Homo sapiens: one gene and its partners. The protein of the gene in region 4 purifies or fractionates together with the protein of the main gene of each other region. This does not show direct contact. Each region holds a gene or a part of one and is shown on either strand. Other genes may lie near its edges. The genes, in order: MEGF8, RHOBTB1, MAST3, PSG3 and INPP5A.

Evidence for each region.
Region 1: the proteins of PSG3 (region 4) and MEGF8 purify together in Homo sapiens (affinity purification with mass spectrometry; 3 studies listed by BioGRID and IntAct, with this or other methods). This does not show direct contact.
Region 2: the proteins of PSG3 (region 4) and RHOBTB1 purify together in Homo sapiens (co-immunoprecipitation; one large-scale study listed by IntAct). This does not show direct contact.
Region 3: the proteins of PSG3 (region 4) and MAST3 purify together in Homo sapiens (affinity purification with mass spectrometry; one large-scale study listed by BioGRID and IntAct). This does not show direct contact.
Region 5: the proteins of PSG3 (region 4) and INPP5A purify together in Homo sapiens (affinity purification with mass spectrometry; one large-scale study listed by BioGRID and IntAct). This does not show direct contact.

The regions. Positions count from the first base shown.
Region 1 is NC_000019.10:42,359,723-42,364,007, forward strand, and holds part of MEGF8 (multiple epidermal growth factor-like domains protein 8 isoform 1 precursor), read left to right. Parts: intron 1-1,052; coding exon 1,053-1,284; intron 1,285-2,367; coding exon 2,368-2,491; intron 2,492-2,661; coding exon 2,662-2,875; intron 2,876-3,325; coding exon 3,326-3,540; intron 3,541-4,285. UniProt on the Homo sapiens protein: Acts as a negative regulator of hedgehog signaling.
Region 2 is NC_000010.11:60,871,186-60,874,685, forward strand, and holds part of RHOBTB1 (rho-related BTB domain-containing protein 1), read right to left. Parts: intron 1,106-3,500; coding exon 1,000-1,105; intron 467-999; coding exon 297-466; 3' UTR 1-296.
Region 3 is NC_000019.10:18,128,463-18,132,747, reverse strand, and holds part of MAST3 (microtubule-associated serine/threonine-protein kinase 3), read right to left. Parts: intron 3,883-4,285; coding exon 3,797-3,882; intron 2,255-3,796; coding exon 2,046-2,254; intron 840-2,045; coding exon 701-839; intron 1-700.
Region 4 is NC_000019.10:42,737,382-42,742,430, forward strand, and holds the start of PSG3 (pregnancy-specific beta-1-glycoprotein 3 precursor), read right to left. Parts: upstream 3,101-5,049; 5' UTR 3,070-3,100; coding exon of another isoform or gene 3,004-3,069; coding exon 2,940-3,003; intron 1,709-2,939; coding exon 1,343-1,708; intron 1-1,342.
Region 5 is NC_000010.11:132,649,030-132,653,314, reverse strand, and holds part of INPP5A (inositol polyphosphate-5-phosphatase A), read right to left. Parts: intron 2,898-4,285; coding exon 2,810-2,897; intron 1-2,809. UniProt on the Homo sapiens protein: Phosphatase that specifically hydrolyzes the 5-phosphate of inositol 1,4,5-trisphosphate to inositol 1,4-bisphosphate, and inositol 1,3,4,5-tetrasphosphate to inositol 1,3,4-trisphosphate. Plays a crucial role in the survival of cerebellar Purkinje cells.

The DNA of each region.
Region 1 (4,285 bases), 380 kb from region 4:
TGCCTAGGCTGGAGTGCAGTGATGCTATCTTGGCTCACTGTAGCCTCTGCCTCCAAGGCTCAAGCAAGCAATCCTCCCTCCTCAGCCTCCCAAGAAGCTGGGACTACAGGCATGCCACCACGCCTGGATAATTTTTTTTTTTTTTTTTTTTTTGTAGAGACAGGGTTTTGCTATGTTGCCCACGCTGGTCTTGAACTCCTGGGCCCAAGCAGTCCACCTGCCTCAGCCTCCCAAAGTGCTGGGATTTAATTCCCTTTTTCTCTTAATCTGTCTTTTCAGATTCAGTAGACAGAGACTACTTCATGTCTGTGTCTCTCAGTTATTTTTTGAGGATTTAAAAAAATTGAGGTGAAAGTCACATAACATAAAATTAACCATCTTAAAAATACATTGGCTGCAGCCTGGGTGACAGAGCAAGACTCTTTCTCAAAAAAAAAAAAAAAAAGCATTGGCATTTAGTGCCTTCAGAGAGTTGTCCAGCCGCCACATCTATCTGGTTCGAAAACATTTGTCTCTCTTCTTATTTCCCTCTTTGTGTTCCTTTGTTGTCTGCTTGTGTCTCTCTCCCTCTCTTTTTTTTTGCTTGCTGTCTATCCTCATGTGTTTCCTCTCTGCTTCTGCTGTTTTTTTTTTTTTTTTTGGAGACATGGTCTTGTTCTGTTGCCCAGGCTGGAGTGCAGTGGTGCAATCTCAGCTCACTGCAACCTCAACCTCCTGGGCTCAAGTGATCCTCCTAATTTAGCTTCCCAAGTAGCTGGGGCCACAGGTGCGCACCACCATGCCCAGCTAATTTTTTATTGTTTGTAGAGACGGGGTCTTTCTACGTTGCCCAGGCTGGTCTTAAACTCCTGGGCTCAAGCAGTCTTCCTGCCTCAGCCTCCCAAAGTGTTGGGATCACAGGTGTGAGCCACCGCCCTTGGCCTTGTTTCTGCTGTCCTTTGACCCTGTGTTTCTCCTCTTTCCCTGCATCCTTCTCTGACTGGCATCATGGTGTGGGTCTCTTCCTGGAGTCTCCTGCTCTCTATCTGTCTGAATACACCATCTTTCCTCAGGCTCGGCCTCTGTGGGGCCCCCAATGGAGGAGTCTGTGGCCCATGCTGTGGCAGCAGTCGGGAGCCGCCTGTATATCTCTGGGGGTTTCGGGGGAGTGGCCCTGGGCCGCCTGCTGGCACTGACCCTGCCCCCTGACCCCTGCCGCCTGCTGTCCTCACCTGAAGCTTGTAACCAGTCTGGGGCCTGCACCTGGTGCCATGGGGCCTGCTTGTCCGGGGATCAGGCCCACAGGTAACCATGGCGACCATGACAGGCAGTGGGGAGTGGAGCCCTCTAATGGGGGTCCTGTGCTAGGCCACACCAGGATGGAGGCCTCAGGAGTATACCGTCTGGTTCAGGAAAGGGGTGAATCACCGCAGGCAGGGTGGCCGGGGGAGCTCTGAGTGGGGATCCCTGCCTGGGACTGGGGTCTCATGCAAGAATGCTTGCTGGAGGAGCTGGGTCTGAACTGGGCCTTAAAAGAACGGTAGAGTTGAGACCATCAGTGATTCAGAAGTGAGGCTGAGACCGGAAGCTGGAGGGGGTCAGCTCAGAAAGGGCTTCCCATGCCTGGCAGAGGCACTGGCTCTGTCCAGCTCCACAGATCCTTCAGCTGCGGTTCCAGGAATGCAGACATCCTGGACACTGAAAGTGTTTTCTTAGGCTTAGCACAGACTCACTTCGCTGCCCAGTCACCCTCACTGATATGAGGCTATTAGTTGGCCTTATTTGCCCGAAGGGTGTGTTGTCAGTTACTACAGGAATGTTAATGGTTTGATTTCGGAGTGCTCCTTACCCCAGACCCCACTGGAGGTATTGTGTAACAGTGGGTACACCCACTGCTTTTCTAAAATCCAGAACAGTCTGAAACGTGTGTACCTCTTGGGATTTGGGGTAAGGGATTGTGGACCCCCCCTGTGCAGGACAGGGAGCCATGGAAGGCCTGAGCAGGACAGGGCAGGGACGGGCCTGGGCAGTGAGATCCCTGGCGCTGTTGTGAGGGGTAGAGTGACGAGAGCCTGCAGGTGGGGACCAGGTTGGGCAAGGGGCTGCAGGGGTGGGGAGGAGGGGACGGTCAGGGAGAAATCCAGGAGGCAGAAGGCTTCGGTGGCTGCATGGGCAGGAGGACCTGGGGTGTGGTCCAGCGTCTCCAGCCTGGGTGACAGGTGGATGTGGGACCATCTATTACCAAATGGTGGTGGGGACAGCCAGGCTCAGGAGGCCTGTGCTATGTCCAGCTTGGGATGCAGGGTTGGGGGCCTGCAGGACAGTGTCTGGGAGGCAGAAGGAGGGGGTCTGGATGGGTGTGAGTGAGCCAGGCCTCATGTCCTTTAGGCTGGGCTGCGGGGGCTCCCCCTGCTCCCCAATGCCTCGCTCCCCGGAGGAATGTCGACGTCTCCGGACCTGCAGTGAGTGCCTGGCCCGCCATCCTCGGACCCTGCAACCTGGAGATGGAGAGGTGAGTGGTGGGGAAGGCAGGGATGAGAAGCAGCAGGTGTAGGGCAGGGAGGTCCTGGTCTCCACTCTGGTCAGCTGTCCCACCCACCCCAGGGTCTCAGGAACCACCGAGTTCTCAGCTGGCTCAGGAGGGGTGCTGAGGGTCCCATCTAGCCTGTCTTCCCTCACCAGGCGTCCACCCCCCGCTGTAAGTGGTGTACCAACTGCCCCGAAGGTGCTTGCATTGGACGCAATGGGTCCTGCACCTCTGAGAATGACTGTCGGATCAACCAGCGAGAGGTCTTCTGGGCAGGGAACTGCTCCGAGGCTGCGTGCGGGGCTGCTGACTGCGAGCAGTGCACGCGGGAGGGCAAGTGCATGTGGACGCGGCAGTTCAAGAGGACAGGTGAGCAGTGGGCCTAGTTCCTGAGAGGGGAGTCTTGGGGCCTGGACTCCTGGGTCTGAGGGAGGAGGGGCTGGGGGCCTGGTCTCCTGGGTCTGAGGGAGGAGGGGCTGGGGGCCTGGACTCCTGGGTCTGAGGGAGAAGGGGCTGGGCCCCTGATCTCCTGGGTCTGAGGGAGGAGGGACTGGGGCCTGGACTCCTGGGTCTGAGGGAGGAGAGGCTGGGGCCTGGACTCCTGGGTCTGAGGGAGGAGGGGCTGGGGGCCTGGACTCCTGGGTCTGAGGGAGGAGGGGCTGGGCACCTGATCTCTTGGGTCTGAGGGAGGAGGGGCTGGGGCTGGATTCCTGGGTTAAGGGAGGAGGGGCTGGGCCTGAGCTCCTGGGTCTGAGGGAGGAGGGGCTGGGCTTGCGATCTCCTGGGTCTGAGGTTCTAATCCCCGTGCCCCACCCCCAGGGGAGACCCGCCGCATCCTCTCCGTGCAGCCCACCTATGACTGGACGTGCTTCAGCCACTCTCTGCTGAATGTGTCCCCCATGCCGGTGGAATCATCACCCCCACTGCCCTGCCCCACCCCTTGTCACCTCCTACCCAACTGTACCTCCTGCCTGGACTCTAAGGGAGCAGATGGGGGCTGGCAGCACTGTGTTTGGAGCAGCAGCCTGCAGCAGGTACTGCACCTGGCCAGGACCGTGCCAGGCAAGGGCCCGGGCAGGTCTCCCTCCTCTCTGCGCTGGCAGGGACCTTTCTTCCACCATCTCCTCCACCCTCCTCCTTCCATCTCCCTGGCTCTAGCTGCAGTCGTGCTTCCTTCTCGTGCCACCATCTCTTTCCTCCCTCGTTGCCTCATGAGGGTCCCTGTTGTGTCCTCCAGCCATGCTTCTGTGTGTGCCACTTTCCCAACCCCTGGCCTCTGCCTCTCCAACTCTTGTCCATGGTATCATGGTCTCCTCATCCTTTCCATGACTTTAAAAAAATTTTAATTTAATTTTTTGTTTTTAATTTTGTCGATATAATTCATAGGTTCACATCCACGACTCTTAATGCTTCTTCCTTCAACCTCCCAAACCTTTTCTGCTTCCCTCCTCTCTCTCTTTCTCTCTCTACTTATGGAACTTTTGGTTATAAGAAACAGACACTCCCTCGAGCTGGTTTTGTTATAAGGAAGTGTGGGTATTTGATGGACTCTGAGAGCAGGAAGTGTTTCTGCTCTGTTGCTCTCAGGCCACATGACCCGTAATCTCAGCTGTTCTCCACACTTCTCCATTGTCGGGTTTCTGTCGGTCTGATAGTCAACACACATGGCCTCAGATTGCAGCCTTGACTCCCAGTCTAGATGCCTTCTAATTCCAGAGACCACGTTCATCTCTGTGTTTGTCGGTTAGCTCACATTCTCGAGGAGAAACTCTGACTTAG
Region 2 (3,500 bases), on a different chromosome or scaffold from region 4:
GTATAAAAAGAAACAAAATAACAGACTAAAGTTTATTAAGCCTCCTAACAAAAAAAATATACATATCAGTTTAAGGAATGCAGTGAGAGTCAGCTTCCCTTTTTGTCCAGGCTCATTGATGGTGAGCTTGTGCTTTGATCCTAACAAAGATAAATGCACAAAAGTGGAGGAAGATCAGTGCCCGAAACCTGAACTATGTCGTATCTCTAACAAGACGAATTTTATAGTAGTGCTTTGAAAAGTGGTGGATCAGATTACCGATTGGTTTCTGTTTTTTGTTTTTTTTCTCTTCCTCTTCAGGCCACTGCTGGAGATGAATTCCAGAAGCACCACTTTCGTCTTGAGCGATGCTTATTTAGTGCAATATCTTCCTTCTCTCGTTCCCTTTTCACACGCTGGTAGTGATCTTCTTCCTTCAGGTACCACACAGGGGGCCAGCGGTGCCGCTCGAAGTATTCCTGGTTGTCTGGTGAAGGAAAGATGCAGACCATAAGACCTGCGGTTCATTGATGCCTTTTATGTGCTAGGCCTTGAGCTTAAAGCTTCTCAAATATCCTCTCAAAAACGTGATGCGGCAGAGACTGTGATTAGGGCCATTTGCAAAAGGTGACACTAACGTTCTGAGAGGAAGAATCTCTTACCTGTAGTCATGCAGCTGGGCACAGAGAACCTGAACCCAGGACCACCTGATTTCAGAGTCTAAGCCTGCTCCTAAGCTTGTCTCCCTAAACAAGGGGAAGGCCACCACCTCTGCACTCTCTGCAACAGGGCACCCTGGACTCTAGCCCACCCAACTCCCCTCATCATCAAGTTCTCCAAAGACAATTCCCAGCCTTCAATTCCTTATGTCATCTCACATTAATATGTGACCACCAGCCAGTCTCGAGGAATCATCCATGAGCTGCCTGCTGACCATGTTCCTTTCCAGGGACATAGAAGATAAAAGCTTCCATGAGAGGTGAGGAGAGCTGGATGAATGGGGGCCTCACACAGTCTCACCTGCAGATTTTGATTTGATTTCCTTACGGAACTTGGAGCATACACTGTTGTAGTTGGTGCAGATGTGGTGCAAACACCAGGCGGCCAACTGGTGGGCATTGTGAAACTGCAGAAAAGTGAGCAAAAGGAGGGTAAGACTATTTTCTAAAGAGGGGCTACAAAGAAATTGGGGAAGCCATTTTAAGGGTGAAAAGAAATGAAGGGCTTATATAACTAATTCGGTAAACCTCTTGTTTTGACCTCAATGTTTTGACTTTGGCCATGGCTCCAATGCCAGCCAATGTAGTGCTGGGCACACCCCTCCTTTCCCTGCTGTCATAGGTGCACAAAAATAATTAATATCGAATCACGAGCTTAAAGTATGCCTCGCCCTCCCGCCCTCCCCTGCCACCTGGCCCTCTAGTGCTAAACAACCGTGGCCTCTGGAAGGCACCAGCCCACAGCAGAAAGCAGCGATGTCATCTCTGTTTAAGGAAGCCTCCGCAATGGAATACTTCGTGTCGCATGTCAGAGCTCAGCTTGCTGGGGCCAAGATCCGAAAGAGGAGACTGCAGAATGTGTGACTGTCCTATACCTCTCCTTTGGTTACATAAGAAGAGCAGGCGGTATGGGCAGGGTGGAGAGATCCAGATACTCCACCCTTCCATTCTAAGCAATGCTCAGGAAGGTGGCAGCTGAGGTGGCTATGATTAAAAAAGACTAGATCCTCAAAAATCAACTATCTACTCCCCCATTCCCTCCCCAGACCTGGTGGGCCTGCTGCGATCCCTCACTTTCTGTCTGTGCCCTTCTCTGACTTCCCTTCTGTTGTCTGTCGCTCTTGATGTTTCTTTGGTCAGGTGGATCCCTAGAACCTACAGCATGCTTCCTCTGTGGCCCCATATCTCCACTGTGAGGCCAATAGAAAAGCCAGAGACCTCAGAAACCCACTCAAGAGACTCACTGAAAATCACAACCCAAACATCAGAGACAGTTTTAGCTGGTGCTTCCAACTTCTCTTGCTGTTAGATTTCTCTCTGAAAACAAGGCTGGGGCAGTGTTCTGCCAGGTGGGTTTGTTCCAGCTTGAGAGAACCAATTGTGTGCATTTCTTCCCTACTTTGAGTTTAGTGACTTCATATGTTATCATCAGCCATGATGGGAGTATTTATATCATAGAAATTGGCAAACGCAACAGATTGGGGTCCCACTTGCCCTCAAGCTGACTGTTAAACACTTACCAGCACATCACTAGGTTAGGGTCTAATGAATGAGCATGGGAGAATCCATCCTAAGCTCTTCCTGCCAAGGCTTGTCAGGGCTTAGCAATAATCATATTATTTCCTTGTAGTGGGTGTGTATGGGGGTAAGGTGGGAACACAGTGCAACAAACAGACACAACTGCAAATCATTCCCTCAAGTGAATGGTCCCAATATGAAATTCTGGATCATTACATTTTTCTCTAGGAGGAATACTTGCTGGAGAGAGTACAGGTTATAAACCATCCCCTGGAACTGTTTCAAAAGACCCCAAATTCCAAGTGTGAACAACCAGTTTTGATGGGGGCTTGCTGATTCGACTGCATTAGATGTCTATTCTCAGTTTCACTGTAATCCCTAATTGGATTTTAATAATTTGTGTTTGTGTCTGTTTCCCTTACTTGCCTATGATTGCCCTGGGGCAGAGGATCTACCATTTATATGTACACGGCCTTTGCCTAGGGCGGTGCCTGGTATTTGGGGAGAAAAATAACAAATACTTGTTGAATGCTAAGTCATAATGAATAGGTCGCTGTAAAGTTCAATTCCGCCTTTTCCCCCTTTTGCACCAGAGCAATCTCCTCTGGCCACAGTAGGAAGGGCCTGAGCAGCACCTGCTGGATGCCACCTCCTCTCCCTGAAACCACCTCCTTTCCTTTGATTGAGAAATATTGATTTAAATGGACTGACCTAAGACTTAGTAAGTCATTGTCTTAACAGAAAGAGGGAGCACAGGAAGCCAAACCCAACAGGCCGAAGAAAAGACTGAGGAATTTATTCTTAGTTTCCTCAGAGTGTAAATTCATTGTTAATCAGCCTGTGCCAGGGACTAGATAATTCTGCAGATGTGCCTGGCATTGTAAGAGGGCTTACACTCTTCAGTGCTCGCTCTTGAACATTCTCTCCCACTTCATTCTCAGAATAATCTGTAAGGTTGGTAGGATGCAAACTGTCATCCCATTTCCTGTGGATGAGGAAAGTGAGGCAGAGTTTAGCTTGTGCTTTGGGGAAGTTACTCCATGGTGAAGCTAAAGCTGAATCTTGGACCTTCTCTGGAAGAAGAGGGCAAGTCTGTATTGGGATTATGTTATTACAATCTCAATATTAGCAACTTCTGACTTTAGAAAACTCCAGAACAGCTGCAATGAGATGTTCATTAACAGGGGAGGCACTACGGGGCTTCATGGAATTCTAGAAACTGTCTCTTCTTGGCCAAATACATGTCCAAGAATTCAAAGAAGGAGGAGAGACAAAACCTCCCCC
Region 3 (4,285 bases), about 25 Mb from region 4:
ATCTCGAGGACACCTGACAAACAGGCATTCCTTTTTCCCTGCACACAGCAGGCGCTCAATAAATGCAGAGGAGAAAATAATACAGGGGTTTCAAAGCAGGTGGCCCTGTGTCTCCCAGTTGCCCACAGAGGGTCTGGCATGCAGTAGGTGCTTACCACCTACCAGAATAAAATAAACATCCTAAGGCTCTCAGTAAACACGTTCTCTTCCTTGCTTTCCTGCACTAATATACAGCAGGTGCTCAAGACATGCACGGTCACTGTCTTTACATGTAAGGTCTCGCAAATTGCATAATCCTGTTCTGTGTGTGTAGTTGGTGTCTTATAAGTGCATGTTCTCTCCCCTTGTGCAGCAGCAGCTCTGGGTGCGCAGCCCCTTCTCCTGTATACAGTGTGTGCATCCTAAGTGCACATCCTCTCCCCTGGATTGGCAGCACCTCCATAAGTGCACCGGCCTTCCCCTGCATACAGCAGACGCCTATTAAGTGTCTGCTCTCCTCTCCTCTGTACACACAAGATGTTCACCATGCGCTCATTCCCTGCCTTCCTGTCAGGAGGTACCAACAGAGCTCAGACAGATGGGGCTCCTGAAGGGTCCCGGGATGCACCTCAGAGGCTCTGCCCTGATCCTCTTTGGCCCCGCCCCTGATCCTCTCTGGCCCCGCCCTCCGCGAGGCCCCGCTCATGCTAGCTCAGCTCACTTGTCTGGTTTGAGGTCACGGTGCACGATGCCATAGTTATGCAGGTACTCCAGCGCCAACACCGTCTCGGCGAAGTACAGGCGGGCCATGTCCACGGGCAGCGGGCCCATGTTCTTCAGGAGCGTGGCGCAGTCGCCGCCTGGGAGAAGGGCGGATGTAGTCATGAGGCCCGGGGCACCCCCGCCCCCCGCCCGCCCCTTAGGTTATGCCCAATGCCTATGCATCCTCCTCGCTTTACCTCCTGCAAAAGGTCCCCAGTTTGTTCTATCTCAGCGGGGAGGGTCGGGGGAGAGGGAAGGGGCGGACCCTACCTTCATTTATTTTTAATTTTTTAATTTTTTCTTCTTTTTGAGAGAGAGTCTCGCTCTGTCGCCAGGCTGGAGTGCAGTGGCGCGATCTCGGCTCACTGCAACCTCCGCCTCCCGGGTTCAAGCGAGTCTCCTGCCCCAGCCTCCAGAGTAGCTGGGATTACAGGCGCACACCACCACACCCAGCTAATTTTTGTATTCTTAGTAGAGATGGGGCTTCACTATGTTGGTCAGGATGGTCTCGATCTCTTGACCTCGTGATCCACCAGCCTTGGCCTCCCAAAGTGCTGAGATTACAGGCGTTGGCCACCGCGCCTGGCCTATTTTTTAAATTTTTATTTATTTTTTTGAGACAGAGTCTCACTCTGTTGCCCGCTCTGTTGCCCAGGCTAGAGTGCAGTGGCGCAGTCTCGGCTCACTGCAAGCTCCGCCTCTAGAGTTCAAGCGAATCTCCTGCTTCAGCCTCCCGAGTAGCTGGGACTATAGGCGTGAATGGGGGTTTCGCCATGTTGCTTAGGCTGGTCTCGAAGTCCTGACCTCAAGCGATCAGCCCACTTCGGCCTCCCAAAGTGCTGGGACTACAGGCGTGAGCCAGCGCGCCAAGCTGAGACCCTGCCTTCTGATTCTCCCCGACAGGGCAGCAATTAGTGCTGTATACAGCTGGTGTCTCCTAAGTGCATGTTCGCTCTCTCGCCTGGCAGTACTTTGGTAATAGTACTTTACCTGCCTGAACCATACATCTCCCTGCCTTCACTTCTGGTCTCCAGGCCTCTGCCCATCAGTTCCCCCCACCTAGGATGGCCACCCTCCTCTTGCCTCCAGGGTCCCATCCTCACACACTCCTGTCTGGGCTCCTCCAGCCCTAAACCCCCATGGCTGGGCTCCCTACCCCAGACTGGGGTTCCTGAGGGTTCCCCAAAGCAGGGTGAGACCTCATGGAGGACAGAACAGACCTCAACTTGGTCTAAAAATTTTCTCCCAGGCGTGGAGGGGTGAGCTCCCCATCGCTGGAGGCATGCAAGCCCCAGTGAGCGTACCTTCCACGTATTCCATGACCATACATAGGTGGCGCCGGGTCTCAAAGGAGCAGAACATGCTGACCACAAAGGGGTTCTCGGCAAAGGTGAGAATGTCACGCTCCACAAAGACCTGCTGGATCTGGTTACGCAGGATCAAGTTCTGTTTGTTGATCTTCTTGATGGCAAAGCGCTGCCGTGTGTCACGGTGCCGCACCAGGTAGACGGCCCTGGGGACAGAGGGCCAGGCTTGCTGGGACCGGAGATCGAGGCCCCAGCAGGCACTACAGCTCAACTTGAGCCCAGATCCCAACCTGCCTGGCCTTTGCCTGTGCTGTGCCCTCCACCTGGGCCACCCATTCTCCTTACCTGTTCCCCCTCCCAGAGCAGCCACCTTTGGGTTTAAGCCACCATGGCTGGGGGCCATATAAATGGGCTGCACATGGCCCTTGTATATTGGCCTCTAGGTTGTATGTTTCTTTTATTTTTATTTTATCTTATGTTTTTTGAGATAGCGCCTCACTCTGTTGCCCAGGCTGGAGCACAGTCATGAGATCACGGCTCACTATAGTCTTTACCACCCCCCCGGCTCAAATGATCCTCCCACAACAGAACCTGGCTAATGTTTAAATTTTTTGTAGAGATGGGGTCTCGCTATGTTGTGGAGGCTAGTCTCAAACTCCTGGCCTCAAGTGACCCTCCCACTTCGGGCTCCCAAAGTGCTGGGATTATAGGCGAGAGCCACTGCACCTGGCTGCTTGTGTATTTCTTTCTTTCTTTCTTTCCTTTTTTTTTTTTTTTGAGATGGTCTCACTGTGTCACCCAGGCTGGAGTGCAGTGGGGTGATCTCGGCTCACTGCAACCTCTGCCTCCTGGGTTCAGGTGATCCTCCAACTTCAGCCTCCCAAGTAGCTGGAATTACAGGCATGTGCCATTACGCCCAGTTAATTATTCTATTTTTAGTATTGATGGAGTTTTGCCATGTTGCCCAGGCTGGTCTCGAACTCCTGGCCTCAAGCGATCCTCCTACCTTGGCCTCCCAAAGTGCCTCCGCACCTGGTCTAGCTCTTTTAAAAGACCGCTAGCACCAAACTCAAAGTTTTACACATCCGTTTGTTTTACACACAGACCAAGTAAGCAAAATTTTAGCCACTGAGAGCCTGTCTGCTTTGCAGACTCGTGAAACTGCACCATCTCTGAGCCATGGATAAGATGAACTTTGTGGATTTCAAGACCCTAAGCTGCTACCACCCTGCAGGGAGTCTCTGACCCAGAGATTGAGTGCCCATGCTGTTGAACAACATCACCTAGACATGTAAGCCCCCTCTCTGATCCCCCTCTGCCCGGGGAGTTCCCTTGCCGGCCTCTCCCTCTTGATGGTGACTCCTGGAACCTCAGCCTCCAAAAGGCTTATGCTATGAGGGACTTCCCTTGTATGCAAGCCTGCCATTCAAAGCAGCACCTAAATAAAGCTCACTGCGTGCTACTCCCACTGGGTGGGCATCTATTTCCTTGATCAGCCCCCAAGCCCCTAGAACGCCCTACACCTGGGGCAGGTAAAGGCCTGGCTCGTGGACAGAGCACACATGAGGCTGTAACCTCGCTATGGCGTGTCTCCACTTCCCCCTCCAGTCCTCAGGTGCCTTCTCTGCCCATTCAAGGATGAATGTGTGAGCCCTGCTGGGGTAGGAGGGGGATGCAGGAGCTGCCTGGGCCTCAACCATCCCCTCAGGCATCTGTGAAATGGGTCTATGCAGGACTCAGGGACTCACCCATAGGCTCCGTTGCTAATGAGTTTGATGGTCTCAAAGTCGCTTTCGCATGGCTTCCTCCGTGACTGGCCGACCAGGGCGCGGCTCTAGGGGATGGGAAGGGCTTAGGGTCCTGCCCCGCTGCAGAGCTGGGAAGGCTTCTCCTGCCCCCAAGCCCAAACCACTGGTCCTGGTGCCCGATGCTACCTCCTCCCCTGTCCAAACTTCTCCAACTCAGCTTCTGACTTTCTGTACTTTTTTGCTCACAGCTGTGCCCTCCTCCTGGGAAATTCTTACACGTCCTGCAAAACTCACCTGTCCAGTGCCCCTCCAGCACTGCCCCCACCCGACTTCCAAGGCAGGGCAGTCCCACGTGCCGTCACCTTGCCTCCAAAGTCACCGATGCTAATTAAGCTACATGCAAGACCTCGGCAAACCCAGCCCTTTCTGCGGGTGCCTGGTCCACTCTGGAAAGAACAAGATGAGCGGGGGTCCCCCAGCCTCTGCTAC
Region 4 (5,049 bases):
GTCTCGCTGGGCCTATGGTGGTGTAGGGTGTGAGTGGGGAAAGAAAACAAGGTCCTCTCCTTGATCCTCTTGTGACAGTGACATGGACACTTTGGGAAACACAGGATTTCAGGTTCAGTGATGGTGGTTAAGATCTGAGGGGGAGGCCTGGACATGTTTTTTCCACTGACTCTGACGGTTGAGGTAGGTGATTTAGTTCTGGAATACAGACTAATCAGTTGACCGTTTGCTCTCACTCCTCTGAGGTTTGGATGCCTAAGAAGAGAGGATTTGAGCCAATAAATGACTATAGGGTGATTGGAACCCAGTAAGCCCTCACTTCTGGTGGAGGAGAGGGTGGGCCTTTGGCTCCAGACACACCTCATGTGACCCTGATCTCCCCTTTGTGTTTGTGTGACTCTGGTTCAGTGACTGTGGCTTCCTGTGCCTCAGTTTTCTCTCAAACAAATAAGCTAAATGGCAAATGGACTGTGGCTTTTCATGCTATCTGTGAATAAATGTTAAATGATTCACAGTCACGTGACCTAATTCTTGGCACAGTGGAGGTTTCACACAAACAGCATTTATTATTAATTTGCTTCCATGAGAAAGCACCTTTATGTCAGATGCCTGTGGACAAGCTGCTACCTGGTATATCTTCTCTCCTCTGTTTCTGCTTCTGGGGACATTAGACTTTCTATGGACTGGCCTAAGCCTCCTAAGGCAGTTGTCTGATGGCCTACAAAGCTTGTCTTTCTGTCCTCTCCACTCTGAGTGTCAGGTGAAGAAAGCTCTGTCCTTGCCCAGATGAGGCTCTGAGGGCTGAGCCCTGGCTGGTGAACAGCTCCAGGAGACACAGTCCTCTGACAGCTGGTAAATCCTTGGTCCCAGTAAGCCCTGCCCAAGAAGCGACAACCCAGCCCCAGTACAGGCTCCTCAGATTTATCTGGAGCAAGGATTTAGGGACATGGTTCTGGGGGTGAGGCTTCTAGGGCTGAGCTTCTCTGAGAGTATTTCATGGGGCCCCTGAGGCCAAGCCCTACTCAGTTTGCCAGGGTCTTTCTCAGGGTCAAATTTATGAAGAGAGCATGAGGTGCTTGGCTGAGACTGATCTCCTCCTGCTGAGTCCCCCCATCAGACTGTCCTTCCTCTGCAGCGAGTGTCTGCAGGGTCTGGATGCGGGAAAGGAATTCTGATCTGTTGAAATTTGTCTCTTCTGTGTGTGTCCTGCACTAAATGCCCAAACCCCAGCATGGGACATAATGCAGAGAGGGACACAGGCACAATCCAGGCCTGACAATCCTTTGTGTGTGAAGTAAAGACCCCATCCCCCAACACCCAGTGATCACGTGGAGTCACTCACGGTATAAGGTGAAGGTGAAATGTCCAGTTTCTCCTCTAGTCCCATCACCTCGCTTTACGATGTGTAAGGTGTAGGATCCTGCGTCCTCCCGGGTGACATTCTGGATCAGCAGGGATGCATTGGAATATACTGTTTCTCGTCCACTGTATGCAGGCCCATATATAATTATTTGACCATCTACTACGTATGATGTAATGTAATGGTAGAGGTCCTTCATTTGCCCTTTGTACCAGATGTAGCCAGCAAGATTCTGGGGCAAATTGTGGACAAGTAGAAGAACGTCCTTCCCCTTGGAAACTTTGGTTGGCTCGGCTTCAATCGTGACTTGGGCAGTGGTAGGCAAGTTCCAGAAGTTTAAAAGTAATGCTAGGAGGTGGAGAGAGCATCAGTCAATATTGAGACCTATGCATTGGGGTGAAAAGATGTGGCCCTGGGTCCTGAGAAGGTCTCTTCAATCCTCAGCTTTGAAGAGACACACACACACACATACAAACACACACACACACACAAAAGGGGCATGTGTATATGTGTTTGTGTCCTACTCTCCTACTAGGTGAAGGTCAGCAACATGACCCCCATTCCTTCAACACTTCTGACCTTGGCATTTTTCTGTTTGGAATCCTCTTCCCCAGGGGTCCGCACGGCCCCCTCCACACTGCCCTCAGGTCCTGCTCACATCAGGGCATCCTTAGACTTCTTTCCTGACGCCTCCTTCAGAGACCCTGGGTCTTCCCTTTCTGACCTTTCCCTGCTCTGCTCCCTCCAGGGTTCTTCTCAACACCTGACCTCACATTCTAGAACTCTTTGCATGTCTGTCTTCCCCCCCATGACAGCGTGAGCTCCGTGAGGACAGGGACTTTTGTGATCTTCTTTGCACCCCAGTGCCTGGAACAGGCTGCAGACTCCTGTAGATGTGAGAGTTCTCAGGGCCCTCCATGCCCTGGGTGTTTTTTCTTCCCCCAGTTGTTGAGGTTTTTTTGCTGAGGACAGTGTTTCATGCCCTGCTTATATTTTTATTTGAAGTGTCATCTGATATAGTTATTATTATCATTTTTCAAAATGTGGTGGCCCCTGATGATTAATCAGGAAAACAGAACACTTAAGATTTTCCTACCTCTTACCAATTCTGGTTCCTGTGACTTTCCTGTTTTGACCCCTGTCCCTCTTGGGTGTATTTTCCCCTATCCAGGCTCCAACAGAGACTTCTTTCCTTTTTTTCTTTTTTCTTTCCATTCTTTTTTTTTTTTGAGACGGAGTCTTGTACTGTCGCCCAGGCTGGCGTGCAGTGGCACTATCTCGGCTCACTGCAATTTCTTCCTCCCGGGTTCACGTGATTCTCCTGCCTCAGCCTCCCGGGTAGCTAGGATTACTGGAGCACACCACAATATCTGGTTAAATTTTTGTATTTTTAGTAGAGACAGGGCTTCACTGTGTTGGCCAGACTGATCTTGAACTCCTGATCTCGTGATCCACCCTCCTCAGCCTCCCTAAGTGCTGGCTTCTTTTATTTTTTAGAACCCCAGGAGTCTCTCCAGGAGACCCCATCCAGTCACTCTGCTTCCTCCTCCTGTCCTCTCCCAGGAAGTTCTCTCCTCACCTGTGAGCAGGAGCCCCTTCCAGGTGATGCGCTGTGTGCAGGGAGGGGCTGAGAGGGGCCCCATGGTCTCTGCTGCCTGCGTGTTCTCCTCTGTGGAGCTGAGCCTAGGATCCAGAAACTTCCTGAGCATGGCTCTCAGCTGTGCTGTCCTTCCTCCTTCTGCGCTGAGCCTCTTCCCGGGGCAGGAGCACTTCTCAGGTTCATGGGCGGGGTCAGGCCCAGGACACCTCTCTGTCCCCTCCTCTCTCAGTCCTGCCTCCTTGTCCCTCCTGTTTTTCCTTTTGTCTGTGTTTCAGGTCCCTGGGAATTGTGGAGGCCTCTGCCTTTTTCAGCAGTGATTCTTTCACCAAGCCTCATCACACACTTTGTGCAGACACACACACACACAGACACACACAGAAGAGACACACACAGACCCACACAGTCAGAAACATACCCTGCAGGTTGGGCAAGCAGAGTCCTGGGCCTCAGCCTCCTGCTGTCCCCATGGCTCTGGGTCGGGGTGCACATTCATGCCCTTTGGCCTCTTTCATCCCCATCTGGCTCTCCCCTTCAGTGCAGGAGGCTGGAGCTGAACCAGGTCCCTGTCACAGTGACACCCCATTGTGCTGTGGGTGAGCTGTGTGTTGCCTGATGAGAGGGAACCTTCCTTTTTCTAATCGTGTCTAGCTTGGCTGCAGCTTCCAAGGATGGACATTCAGGACCTGGGTGTCCCAGAGGAAACTGTCCTTCCTGGAGGTGTGCAGGATGAATCTCTCATGCCTCTTGTGAGGAGAGGCCTGTGCTGGTTGCTCAGTGGGGGGCTGTGAGTCCCATAGTCAAAGGGACAGTTCTCGGTCACTCTATGGCTCCCTGGGGTCTGGCGGCTGAGCTGGAGCTCATGGTTTCTCATGTTCTTCCTGACCATCTTTGATGTCCTCTCTTCTCTGCCCAGCTTATTGTCCTGTGGTCACCACACCTTCCCCGTGGTGGTGCAGGAGGAAGTGGGGAGTTACCCAGGAACCCCGGGGGACATGGCTCATTGAGATGCAGGAGGGGGAGCCTGGGACAGAGCAGGGGTTCAGAGCTGGAGAGATTCATCCCAACTTACTCTGTGGCCATGATGGGCTCAGCCATCCATGTGCCGACATACCCAGGGGTCTGTCCTGAGGTTTTTGACCTGGCCAAGCTGCTGTGTGTAGAGGAGGAACAGGTAGTGGCCAGAGAGCCTGTCTGGAGGGACGTTGCTCACACCTGAGTGGGCGTGTGGGGGTGAGTTGTGTTCTGGGAGCAAAGAGCAATAACATCCCCCTTCTCCCAGCAAGCACACAGGAGAGGTCTGTCTTCCCAAGGGACAGCTGGGGGTAGGTGGCCACATCCCGGATGGTGCCTGTGTGTGAGCATCACACGTGCTCTGAGCCCCCCGGGGTGCAGGGAGCAGGCAGGACACAGGGTGCCTGGCTGATTCCCGGGGAGGCTGTGGGCCCTCAGGCAGCCACTGTTCTGTGTCAGTGCTAGGCTTGGCCTGGGATGCCCCAGAGAACAGGACAGATGGAGCAGGGGCAGGCATTTAGGGAGCAGTGACAGAACGAGTTGATGAGGATGGAGGGAGGCCACGAGGGGAAAGCACCCAGTGTAGTGTCGCGTGCACCAGCACTGCCCTGGGAGATGCCTTTAGCTGGGCCCAGGGAAGGAGCAGGTGTGTGGGGAGGAGCTCCCTGCAGGGGGAGTGGTGTTAGGTTGGCGGCCCCCAGGTCAGGGAGGAGCTGACAGAGTCCGTGTGGGGAGCATGGAGGGCGCTGAGGACTTGGGCCGAAGTGACCCTGGTGAGGGTGGACCCTGCTGGGCTGTGGGTTCCGTTGAGGGCGGTTGGCATCCCCTGGGAAGGCTCCAGGCTGGGAGGGACTCTGTCCCCCTCTGGTGGACAGGGAGGGAAATGTGAACGGCAGCAATCCCAGGCCAGGCTGCATGTTTTATTCCACATGGATCTGCACACTTCACACGAGGTCACACATATGTTATGTTATAGCTCCTTCACCTTCCAGCCCCGTGAGTCCCAGTCTGTGTGGCTCTATGTTCACTGTTCTCCCTCTTTCACAATCAGATGTCCCAAATGCAGATTTTTGTCACC
Region 5 (4,285 bases), on a different chromosome or scaffold from region 4:
CGGGGGCCTGAAGAAGGTAGCCAGGTGTGGAGGCAGCCGCGGCCCTCGGGAGCCTGAAGGAGGTTTTGCTGAGGCTTTCGCCCTCATGTGGAAAAACGTTTTGGTGGAAACAGAACTACAGCATGACGGCTGCCCCTCCGCCAGCCCATGTGTGCCTCGCTCTCAGGTATCCCAGCCAGGCTCGGACAGACGGAGAGGCCTGCTCTGGCCAGGGCCCAGCACGCGGGTGCCTTCTGTCGGTGGCTGCGTCCACCACTGCTCTGGCTGGAGAGCCTCAGATGCCAAGGGTGCGGGTGGCGGGCACTGCCCCTCCGCCCACCTGCACATCGGCCAGCAGGAGGGGACTGTGGGGTCCTCCTGCGGTGCAGAGCCTCCCGTCTCCACCCAGCCCTGTCGGTTTCGCGTCTAAGTGAGCTCTGATATTAGGGGCGCACGTTCACGACCGCTATGTCCTCCCAAAAAGCTGACCCCTTATCATCGTGAAATGACCGCTCTCAGCCCCGACAACACGCTCGTTCTGAGGGCACCCTGACATGCAGACAGCCACTCCTACTTTCTTCTAACGACTGTTTTACAAGGTACATCCTCCTCCGTCCCTTCACTTTTAAAATACCTGTGTCTTTATATCTAAAGGAAGCTGGAAAGAGCTGAGCGATGGTCCCCATGAGGAAGAGGTAGCTGGCGACTGGCACAGATGAGGCTCCCATGGCAGGGCAGCACGCAGAGACGGGGAGCAGAGCCCCACTCTTCCGAGGATGATGGGTGGCAAGGAAGGGCCTTCATGTAACTTGCTTTCAGCAATCGGACCTTGGCCTGCGTTGGTATGTTTATTCGGCTTGAAGCTTGTTGCAGTATTTGGATCTTTCTGTAAGTTTCATGGACTGATGAAGAAATCTGAGCCATGACATCTGTAAGCATCACCCTGTCTGCCTCCTTTCCCCGCTCCTCCTGGGGCTGCAGCCACACGTGTTAGGACACCTGGTATTTCACAGTGATTTCTATCCACTTTTCAGTCCTTCTCTCTGTTTCACTTTAATTTTGTGGCTGTCTTCAAGTTCAGTCACCTTCTCTTTTCTTCTGCAATGTCTAATTTGCTGCTCCCCCAGTGGTGTTTTTCTTTTTCATCTGAATAAGCCCCTACTTGGGAAACACATTACGTTGGGTCATGGCAGAGGAGAGTGAGAGGGTCAAGGAAGCTGCCATTTTATGGAAAGGATGGCAGAGCTGAGAGAAAGAAGCTGGTAGGGAGGAGGGACCAAGGGGGAGAGGGAGGAGGGACCAAGGGGGAGAGGGAGGAAGGCTGACAGGAGGAGCTACATCCTGAGCACAGGGGTGAGGGCCTTGGCTCTGGTGTGAGTGGGGGCCCCGTGGTCCCCGTGTGCCCCACAGAGCGTGAGGAGAGGCCGCTTGTGTGTGGGCAGCTGCTTGACAGGGCGAGGGTCGGAGACCGAACGGGGGATTCCCGGGATTGTACAGACTCCACTACTGGTGGGGACCACGCATGACAGCTGTGTGACCATCTCAGGGACAAGGACATTGATCAACTGGCACTGGATGCCCAAACAAGTGAGATGGCCCTTGAACCCAAACAGCAATGAGAGTCCCACCTGCAGGGCAGGGGGGCACTGGAGAGCGAGACCCTCAGCACTGCAGCCTACGGGGGCCCACCTGGGAGAGGGCAGATTAACAAGGGCCTGTCACGTGACGGCGCAATGACGGCTAGTGGGCGCTGATGCTGGGGACAGAAGGCCAGAGATGGGGGAGAAGGATGCAGGGCCTCTCCAGAGACGGGGGAGATGGAACCAGGCCGGGGGACCCAGGGCCTCCCCAGAGATGGGGGAGATGGACCCAAGCCGGGGGACCCAGGGCCTCCCCAGAGACGGGGGAGATGGACCCAGGCCGGGGGACCCAGGGCCTCCCCAGAGACGGGGGAGATGGACCCAGGCCGGGGGACCCAGGGCCTCCCCAGAGACGGGGGAGATGGATCCAGGCCGGGGGACCCAGGGCCTCCCCAGAGACGGGGGAGATGGACCCAGGCCGGGGGACCCAGGGCCTCCCCAGAGACGGGGGAGATGGATCCAGGCCGGGGGACCCAGGGCATAAAGACGGGATTTAAGACGTGGGTCTCTGAACCAACAGCAAGTTATTCACGACCTGCAGAGTGTCCCCTCCTCTGAGGAGCTTCCTGCCCCTTCCCAGACACCTGGTGCCTGTATCTCTGTGGCTGCCACGTCCACCAGGGCCACCCTCTCATGTGTCCACCTGACAGAGGACCGCAGAGGAGGGACAGGTCTTTCCCAGCCCTGTGGAAGGCTCTGTCCCACTCCCCCTGTGCTCACCCTGAGGAACAGCCTCTCTCCGAGGCAGGACACCGCCCCAGCCCTGCACACTCAGGGATCAGGAAGGGACGGACCCAGCATGGGAGCAGGGCTGGCGACGGTGGCTCTTGAAGCAATACCGGCTGCTGTCCAACCTCTCATCTACACGCCTGGAGCCCCGGACTCCCTCTTATTTTCATGCACGCTGAGGCCCTGGGCCTCTCCCCACCTGTCACTCCCCAATTCCCTCTTGGGCTTGGTCTGGAGCCCCAAGACCCTGTGCGTGCTGGGCCACCTTCCCTGCCAGGCCAGCCATGGGCTCAGACCACGAGCAGACCACCAAGCAGGCTGCGGGAGTGCCAGGCAGGGCAGCGTGAGTGAGGCTTCAGGCAGGGAGCACCCCGACCTCTCTCCATTTACACAGGAGAAGGGCTGGCTTCTGCCAAGGCCAGCCTGTCTGACCCCTGCACCAGGCAGCGGGAGGGACTCACCGTGAAGTGCTCCTGGGATTTGTAGTTTTCATCCAGGTAGACTCGAGCCCTGTTATATTCTTTCATCGCATCACTCGACAATAGTTCTCTGGAAGGAAGAAAGTAGGTTCCTGAGGAAAAGCCACACAGACGCCTTGCACCTCATGAGATGACCACAAGGTATAAGAGGGGCTCCAGCACATAGGTACATCACCGTGAGACCATCCACCCGTGACAGGCAGAGGGCAGGGAATGGCGGCAGCCACCGCAGGAGCTGGCCTCACGTTCAGCTCTCAGCATGTGCAGAGCTCAAGCTCCCACAGGCTCTGGTCTCCACGCAGCCTGTGAGATGCCGGGGTCTGAGGCATCCCAGGGATGGAGACATTGAGAACTCACCCAAGGTCTCATGCCAGGGAAGCGCAACTCCAAGCTCTGGGGGCTCTCCTGATAGCTCACGCTTGGTCTTAAGAGAGAAATTGGACCCCCAGTAGCCACCAGCACACACAGGTTGGGGCACATGCACCCCAGGGCCCAGGTAGTTCTGTCCCCATCTGCTCCTCCCAGAAGTGGCAGCGAGAATGGTGGTTGAGTTGCCACGGCCTTGCAACCACACAGGAGGGAAAGGACCTCTGGACACGCCATTGTCCCCGACCGTTCATCCTACTGGTCACATTTTATCATCAGGAAGGCCTTAAGGAGACAAGCTCACCACCATCTCCGCAAAGCATGGCTGCACAGGAGGCCACCGCACACCCCTGGAGCCCATGAACGGAGGACGAGGCCCCGTCTGCCTGGCCCCTCCACAGAGACAGTCCATCATCCCCCTACCCACGCATGCTTATTCAAGCCAGTGGGGAGAGAGGAGACCAGCACCCTGTGATCCAGCCAGTCCATGTGTCAGGAAGAAGGGGGGTCCACATTGAAGAAAATAAAACTGCACCAGTAGAGAAGGGCAAGGCAAAGAATGCCTTGACAGACCCACACTGATCCCCATGTGGCTTAACTGTTGGTAAACACAACCTTCAACACGCTTTAAAGGAAGAAAACAGGGCTCAAACACTAAACAACGTAACATTCGCAATGTCTGCCATCCTACGGAAAATAACTTGATATGAGAAGCAGCAACACCACGTGAATGTGTCCCGTCATCCTACGAAGAAGCCGTCAACAGAAACAGACCCGGAAGAGGCAAAAATGACGGAGTGAGCTGAAAGCAACTGGGAACAGTCATTGCAACTGTGACCAGACAGCGAAAGGAACGCACAGACGGAAGGAAAAGCGAGGACAGGGAAAGCACACGTGAGGCTTCTGGAAGGAGTGGACAAACACAATGTCAGAAATAAAACGAACTGACTGCATGGACCTAAGAGAAGATCAAAATCTGCAACAGAAAAGAGCCCAGCCACTTAAAAATACAGCAACAGAGGCGATCCAAACCGAAACACAGGGAAAATGAGCTGAAAACAATCAGAAGAGCTTTAGGGCCCTGTGGGGCAG